Regions from separate parts of the Homo sapiens genome. Here regions 1 and 2 are each linked to region 3. The links come from fine-mapping of genetic effects on gene expression. A gene starts in region 3. Each other region holds a variant in brackets. All regions are shown on one strand. Distances are between the middles of the regions.

What was found. PIP is the estimated chance that this variant, and not a neighbour inherited with it, causes the effect.
Region 1: its variant is the best candidate, but not a certain one, in a credible set for the expression of MYO9A in fibroblasts (GTEx, PIP 0.51).
Region 2: its variant is the best candidate, but not a certain one, in a credible set for the expression of MYO9A in whole blood (INTERVAL, PIP 0.86).

The regions. Positions count from the first base shown.
Region 1 is chr15:72,095,278-72,098,041 of GRCh38, forward strand. The region is part of intron 1 of MYO9A (myosin IXA); the gene reads right to left. Among named protein-coding and RNA genes, the nearest start is that of MYO9A, 21 kb to the right of the region's middle. The variant G/C (reference allele first, on the strand shown) is at 1,766.
Region 2 is chr15:72,149,837-72,152,600 of GRCh38, forward strand. No RefSeq gene overlaps it. Among named protein-coding and RNA genes, the nearest start is that of SENP8, 33 kb to the left of the region's middle. The variant C/T (reference allele first, on the strand shown) is at 1,473.
Region 3 is chr15:72,116,700-72,119,463 of GRCh38, forward strand. MYO9A (myosin IXA) reads right to left here and starts at 1,451. Exons shown (of 42, transcript NM_006901.4): 1 at 981-1,451. It overlaps SENP8 (SUMO peptidase family member, NEDD8 specific), which reads left to right and starts at 1,704. Exons shown (of 2, transcript NM_145204.4): 1 at 1,704-1,765. RefSeq lists an enhancer at 393-602 and a silencer at 803-1,572.

The DNA.
Region 1 (2,764 bases), 21 kb before region 3:
CCTTACTACTGATATGGAGAAAGTTTTAGTGGTCTGGAAAGAAGATCAAATTAGCCACAACATTCCCTTATGCCAAAGCCTAATCTGGAGCAAGTCTCTACCTCTCTTCACTTCTATGAAGGCTGAGAGAGGTGAGAAAGTTATAGAAGAAAAGTTGGACACTAGCAGTGTTGATGCATGAGATTTAAGGAAAGAAGCCGCCTCCACAACATAAAAGTGCAAGGTAAAGCAGCAAGTGGTGGCATAGTAGCTGGAGCAAGTTATCCAGAAGATCCAGCTAAGATAATTGATGAAGGTGGCTACACTAAACAACAGATTTTTAATGTGACAAAACGGCCTTGTGTTGGAAAAATATGTCATCTAGGACTTTCATAATTAGAAGTGAATGCCTGGCTTCAAAGCCTCAAAGAACAGGCTGCCTCTCCTGCTAGGGGCTAAGGCAGCTAATGACTAAGCTGAAACCAATGCTCATTGACCATTCTGAAAATCCTAGGGCTCTTGAGAATTAACGCTAAATCAAGGCCAGATGTGGTGGCTCACGCCTGTAATCCCAGCACTTTGGGAGGCTGAGGCAAGCGGATCATCTGAGGTCAGGAGTTCAAGACCAGCCTGGCCAACATGGTGAAACCTCGTCTTTATAAAAAATACAAAAATTAAGGTGGGTAGATCACCTGAGGTCAAGAGTTTGAGACCAACCTGGCCAACTTGGAAAAACCCCATCTCTACTAAAAATATTAGCTGGGCATGGTGGTGGGAGCCTGTAATCCCAGCTACTTGAGAGGCTAAGGCAGGAGAATCATTTGAACCCAGGAGGCAGAGGTTGCAGTGAGCCAAGATCACGCCACTATACTCTCCAGCCTGAGTGACAGAGCGAGACTGTCTCAAAAAAAAAAAAAAAAGAAAAAAAAAAATTAGCTGGGCATGGTGGTGCAGGCCTGTAGTCCCAGATACTCAGGAGGTTGAGGTGGGAGAATCACCTGAACCCAGGAGGCAGAGGCTGTAGTTAGTTGAGATCACACCACCGCACTCCGGCCTGGGCAACAGTGAGATCCTGTCTCAGGGAACAACAACAACAAAATTACACTAAATCTACTTTGCCTTTGCTCTCTAAATGGAAAAACAAAGCCTGAATGACAACACATCTGTTGACAGTAAGGTTTACTGAATGTTTTAAGCCCACCGTTGAGACCTACTGCTCAGAAAAATAAGATTCCTTCAAAATACTACTGCTTATTGACAATGCACCTAGTTACCCAAGGGCTCTGTTAAAGATGTACAAGGAGATTAATGTTTTCCCACCTGCTAACACAACATCCACTCTGCAGCCCATGGATCAAGGAGTAATTTTAACTTTCAAGTCTTATTATTTAAAATATTTCATGAGGCTTTAGCTGCCATAGACAGTGATTCCCCTTATGGATCTGGGCAAGGTAAACGTAAAACCTTCTGTAAAGAATTCACCTTTCTGGGTGCCATTAAGAACATTCATGACTCGTGGGAAGAGGTCAACATAACATTAACAGGAGTTTGGAAGAGGTTGTTCCCAAGCCTCATGGATGACTTTGATGGCTTCAAGACTTCAGTGGAAGAAGGAATTGCAGATGTGGTGGAAACAAAGATAATTAGAATTTAAAATGGAGCCTAAAGATATGACTGAACTGCAGCAATCTCACAATAAAACATGAACAGATGATAAGCTGCTTCTTACTGATGACCAAAGAAAGTGGTTTCTTGAGATAGAATCTACTCCTTGAGAAGATGCTGA[G/C]AACACTGTTGAAATGACAACGAAGTATGTATAATATTACATCAACATAGTTGATAAAGCAGCTGCAGGGTTTGAGAAGACTGACTCCAATTTTGAAAAAAGTTATATTGTGCATAAAATGCTATCAAATGGCACTGCATGCTACAGACAAATCTTTCATTAAAGGAACAGTCCACTGATGCAGCATACGTCATTGTCTTATTTCAAGAAATTGCCACATCCACTCCAACTTTCAGCATCCACTATCCTGATTAGTCTGCAGCCACCACCATGAAGTAAAGAACCTCCACCAGCAAAAAGATTACAATTCAATGAAGGCTCAGATGACCGATGACCGTTAGCATTTTTTTAATATTTTCTAATCAATGTGTGGATATTTTTGTAGACATGGTGCTATTATACACTTTAAATAGACTATAGTACAGTATAAACATAAGTCTTATACGCAATGGGAAAACAAAAGTTTCATGTGACTTGCTCTACTGCAATATTCACTTTATTACAATATTTGCTTTATTGCAGTGGTCTGAAACTGAACTTAAATATATCAGAAGTATGCCTGTATATAAACTGGAGATCCAGAAAAAGAAAGACTGAGATGGTGAAACAAAAATATTTAAAAACTGGGAGGCCAAGGTGGGCGGATCATGAGGTCAAGAGATCAAGACCATCCTGGCCAACATGGTGTAACCCCATGTCTCTACTAAAAATACAAAAATGAGCTGGGCATGGTGGCGTGCGCCTGTAGTCTCAGCTACTCAGGAGGCTGAGGCAGGAGAATCGCTTGAACCCAGGAGACAGAGGTTGCGGTGAGCCGAGATCACACCACTTCACTCCAGCCTGGTGACAGAGCGAGACTCCATCTCAAAAATAAATAAATAAAATAAAAATTTTTTTAAAAAAAAGAAGAAACAGAAAAAGAAAGACCACTGAAACTATAAGATCATTTCCTCTGAAAACAATTAACTAGAAATCAGTATAAAAAAGATGAGTGGGCAT
Region 2 (2,764 bases), 33 kb after region 3:
CACTGCACTCCAGCCTGGGCAACAGAGTGAGACTCCATCTCAAAAAAATAAATAAATAAAATAAAGAAATAATTAGCTTCCAGGACACCAGACTCTTCTGGTTTTCCTCCTTCCTCATCAGGCATCCTTAGTTTCCTTTTCCTAGTTCTTCCTTTTCTTCCTGATCTTTTATTAACAGTGTGTGACAGGGTTCACTCGTCCACTCTTTCTTCTGTCTACAGACTCAGTCCCTTGATGATCTCATCCAGCAGCATGCTTTTAAATACCATCCATATGTTGACAGCTCCCAGATTTATTTTTTTATTTTATTTTATTTATTTATTTTTATTTTATTTATTTATTTATTTATTTTTGAGACGGAGTCTTACTCTGTCACCAGGCTGGAGTGCAGTGGCATGATCTCAGCTCACTGCAACCACTGCCTCATGGGTTCGAGTGATTCTCCTGCCTCAGCCTCCCAAGTAGCTGAGACTACAGTCGCATGCCACCACGCCCAGCTAATTTTTGTATTTTTAGTAGACACGGGGTTTCACCATGTTGGCCAGGATGGCCTTGATCTCTTGACCTCATGATCTGCCTGCCTCGGCCTCCCAAAGTGCTGGGATTACAGGTGTGCGCCACCATGCCCAGCCAACAGCTCCCAGTTTTGTTTTGTTTTTTTTGAAATGGAGTCTTGCTCTGTTGCCCAGGCTAGAGTGCAATGGTGCAGTCTAGGCTCACTGCAACCTCCACCTCTCGGGTTCAAGCGATTCTCCTGCCTCAGCCTCCCAAGTAGCTGGGACTGCAGGCATGTGCCACCATGCCCAGCTAATTTTTTGTATTTTTAGTAGAGATGGGTTTTCACCATGTTAGCCAGGATGGTCTCGATCTCCTGACCTCATGATCTGCCCGCCTCGGCCTCCCAAAGTGCTGGGATTACAGGCATGAGCCACCATGTCCAGCCAACAGCTCCCAAATTTATATCTCCCAGACTTCAGACATCTCTCCTGAACCCCAGACTCATATACCCTATTGCCCACTTGACATCCCCACCACTTGGATGTCCAAAATTCATCTCAGACTGAATATGTCCAGTACTACATTTCTGATTCTCCTTCCAAAAGCTTTACCACTCATGGCTTTCTCCACCTCCATTCTTTCAAGCCAAAAAACATGAAGTCATCCTTATGACTCCTTTTCTGTTATACCCCATATCCAATTTAACAGGCAGTCCTGTCGTTTGTACGTTCAGAATATATCCAGAATCTGCATGTTTCCACCATCTCTACTACTGCCCTAGTCATCAGAGTCATTGTCCTCCCTAACTTGTAAGGGAGGCTGTCTCCTAACTGATCTCCCTGCTTCCACCTTTCCCTCCCTAGCAGTCAAGTTTGATTCTTTTGAAATCTGAATAACAAAAGATTATTATTCACTTATCTACTCATTTCATTGGGAGTCAAAGCCAAAGTTCTTATAATGGTCTTAGATGATTT[C/T]CCAGCCCTCCCCCTTTGACTTCATCTAGTTCTGCCCCTTCTTCTTCTCTCTCTTCCAGCTACACCTGCATCCTTGCTGTTCCTGAACAAGCCAGCCAGGCACCCTCCCTTCCACTTTAGACTTGTTGCATTGGCTATTCACTCTACCTGGAATGTTCCACAAACCTTATTCTCTCATTTCTTTTTTTTTAAGACAGAGTCTCACTCTGTCGCCCAGACTGGAGTGCAGTGATGCAATCTCCACTCACCGCAAACTCTACCTCCCAGGCTCAAGCAATTCTCCTGCCTCATTCTCCCAAGTAGCTGGGATTACAGGAGTGTGCCACTACCGCCCAGCTAATTTTTGTATTTTTAGTAGAGACGGGGTTTCTACTCTTGACTTCAAACGATCCACCCGCCTCGGCCTCCCAAAGTGCTGGGATTACAGACATGTGCCACCGTGCCCAGCCCTACTGTCTCATTTCTTATAAGTCTACTTAAATATCAACTTCTCTGTTGGACCTTCCCTGATAATCATCTAATGTGATGCCCTATAAGCATTTCCAATCTCCCTTTTCTTGTTCTATATTTGTTCTTTTTTCTTTATCTCTTATCACCTTCTAACATACTATATTTATTTATTTATTTATTTATTTATTTATTTATTTATTTATTTATTTTATTTTATTTATTTTGAGACAGAGTCTCACTCTGTCACCTAGGCTGGAGTGCAGTGGCACCATCTCAGCTTACTGCAACCTCCACCACCCGGGTTCAAGCGATTCTCCTGCCTCAGCCTCCTGAGTAGCTGGGATTACAGGTGCCCGCCACCACGCCCAGCTAATTTTTGTGTTTTTAGTAGACACAGGGTTTCACCATGTTGGTCAGGTTGGTCTGAACTCCTGACCTCAGGTGATCCACCCACCTTGGCCTCCCAAAGTGCTGGGATTATAGGCATAAGCCACCATACCCAGCCTATAATTTATTATCTTAGTTGCTTATTGTCTCTCTCCCCTCATCACTAAAATATATAGACTTCACGAAGGCAGAGACCTGTATTTGCTTTGTTCACTAATATATTCCAAGCTCTTAACACAGTGCCTAGCCCATTGTAGACACTCAATGATAATTATTTTGATGAAAAAATAAATGAAAATCTGGCCTGGAAAATCTGTAATCCCAGCCCTTTGGGAGGCCAGGATGGTCGGATCACTTGAGATCAGGAGTCCGAAACCAGTCTGGCCAACATGGTAAAACTCCATCTCTACTAAAAATACAAAAATTAGCCAGGCATGGTGGTGAGCATCTGGAAT
Region 3 (2,764 bases):
AAGGAGGTGAAGTAATACTACAAGACGACATAGTTATATCCACTAGTGCAACGTGATTTAATCCTTACAGAGGTCCCTAAAACATCAGTGCTGGACAACCTCACACGTTCTACACAGAACAGACAAGACGAGGTGCAGGCTCTGTGACCTTATAATGGCACACACACAACTGGCCTCATGCTTCCATAACTTCACTCTGCCTCCCACTTTTTTCAGCCCAACCCCTCCAAACATGGGTCTCGGTCGGTCCCCTTAAGCCACAATGGAGGGAATACATTAGGCTAAGCAAATATTCCCTCAGGATTTCATGGCAAAGCCCTTTCAACCAAAGAAAGGATCGCGACTAAGGAGAAAGATAACAAGGTTTGCTTGAGGAGAGGTCTGTTGAGAGAGGCTACAGTCGGTGGTGGGAGAGAAGCCAAAGTCTGTGACGGTGTCTAGAGGGACTGACACCACATCTACCGGGAGTAAGAACACCATGACAGCGGCTATCTGAAAGCCGTGATGGCTAGGGTTAGTGCTAGTCGGCTTGGTGATGAGCGAGCTGGGAGGGGTTCTACTAAGAAGAGTAGGGCGAGGGGCACATGGGGGACGCAATGGGTTAGGGGGCGGTCGAGACTTTGCCTGAGAACTGTAATCACGTCAGCCCAAGGGAGGATGTAACGTAGTCTAGAAGCTCCATTAAGAGTCCTAAGGGACTCTGAGGGGTACTAATGGGGTCTGCTGGGTTGGGGGGACCGTGACAGAATCTCCGGGGAGGCTGGAGGGCCGGAATGGTGCCCGGCCAATGGAAGATACAGGGGGTGGGGTCTACTGGGGATCCGGGGCCGTGATCTGGTGTTTGGGAGGCTCGGCGCAGACCCGCTCGCGGGGCGTCTCCGCTGGGACGGGGCGGGGCGGCCCGACCGGAGCCAAATAGCGAGGCTGAGACGTGGGCCAGGACGGGCTGCAGGGCCGCTGGGCGCTTGGGCGGGTCTTACCTCGGGCTCCGCCGCGGTGGCCACCGCAGCCCCCTCCTCTTCGACGGAAGCTGCCTTCCACCCTCCGCCCCAGGGTAGGACCGGAGATGGCAGAAGAGGCCGAGGCCACCGAGGGTCGGACGGTTCCGGGAGGGTGGGCCCAGCAGCCTCAGGGTCCGGGCGAGCGGCCGCGGCGCATCCCCCGCCCTGTCAGAGAGACTCCGCCCGGCCTGAGCAGGCACATCCCCCGCCGCACCCCGCCCAGAGAGCACGCGTTGGACCGCCGCCTCAACCGCTGCCAGCGGCCGCCTCTGCCGGTGCAACTACTGCCTCCGCCGCCGCCTCTCGCAGTCCGGGCTGTCCTGTACTCTCTCAACAGACACAGCCAACCGCCGCCGCGTCCCTTATCCGCTTCGGTCGCGCGCCCCCGACCCCGCGCACGCGGCCCCGCCCCGCGCGACTCCCCGGCTGCAGGCGAGCAGGCGCGCGCGCACTTACCTCCCACGCCCCCTACTGCCAGCACGGGTCGGCCCCGCCCTGTCCCGCCCCCGCACGTGACGCCACTGGAGAGTACAGCGTGCGCTTGCGCAGACACGCCCCCTTTCCTACGCCCCAGGCGGCCCCGCCCAAATTTTTTCTTCTTCACCTTACGGCAGAGCAGGGAACTCAGCTTTAGATTCTCCCTGTACTGGAAAGGGATGTCGCAAGGTTGGGGACGAAACCTCTGAGTTTGCGACCGTAGCTGTCGCTTTCCGGCCAACACAGAGGTGCCTGAAGGCTGGTTGGGGTGGTGAGGCCCGAGGCAGGTAAGAAGCCTCCTCCCCACTTCGGTTTGTCTCGGCAGTGGATCGCTCTCCCACCCACTCAGATTCTGGCGTATCCGTGCTCCCTCCCGATTCTGGACCTGGATTCTCAGCGCCGCCGGTCATAGCCCCCGCCCCTTTTCAAACACGCACGCTCTCTCCACCCACTGCCCCCTCCATTGTCCCCGCCCCGACCTCCGTTTCCATTCATTTCTCAGACTTTTCACTGAGTGGTTTCCATGCCTTGGGTTCCAGAATGTCAGAGGCGAATTAAGTGGTGTCAGCTTTTTGAAGTGCTTTTGTATAGGAGACCGTGAGAGAATCCGCAGTGGTAGTACAATAAAGTGACAATAGAGAAAAATGCACGGGATGCTGTCTGCGCACAGAAGAGGGGTCCCAGGTTGTGTAGGAGGATAACGTGAGGAAGCCCTTTCCAGGGTGACTTTTGGGTCACTTTTAGAGGACTGTGTTAAAAGACTAGTAATCCAGTACCTGGTCAAAGAAATACGAAAGGAGGTAAAAGCAGAATAACGGGCGCAAGAGCATGTGACAGTGGTGGTCTGAAAGAGAAAAAAGAAGTAAAATAAACCTGATGGAAACCGTACTAGTGTAGACTTCCCTTTAAAGAAGCATCGTTATAAAGTTAGAGAAATGAGGAACGAGAATATGGCCCTCAGGAATGTTTTCTGTTTAGGTAGAAGACTCAAAAGCGTACCATGAAACCGAGAAGTGGCCTCTTCGAGGGTGAGGGAGGCTAATTTATAAGATCAAGATCACTAGTGGAACGCAACCTTGTATGTGCATTTGAATCACCTGGGAAACTTTTTGTTAAATAAAACCAATACTGTTGCCCCACTCTAGACCAATTAAATTCTGGGTTGTGCCAGGTGTCATTACTGTTTTAAAGCTCCACAGGTGACTCTAATGCTAAAGATTGAGACTCACTAAACTAGAGAGAAGGAAGTTGAGACAGTTGGCTCTGTAACATTAAGATGGAGGTCA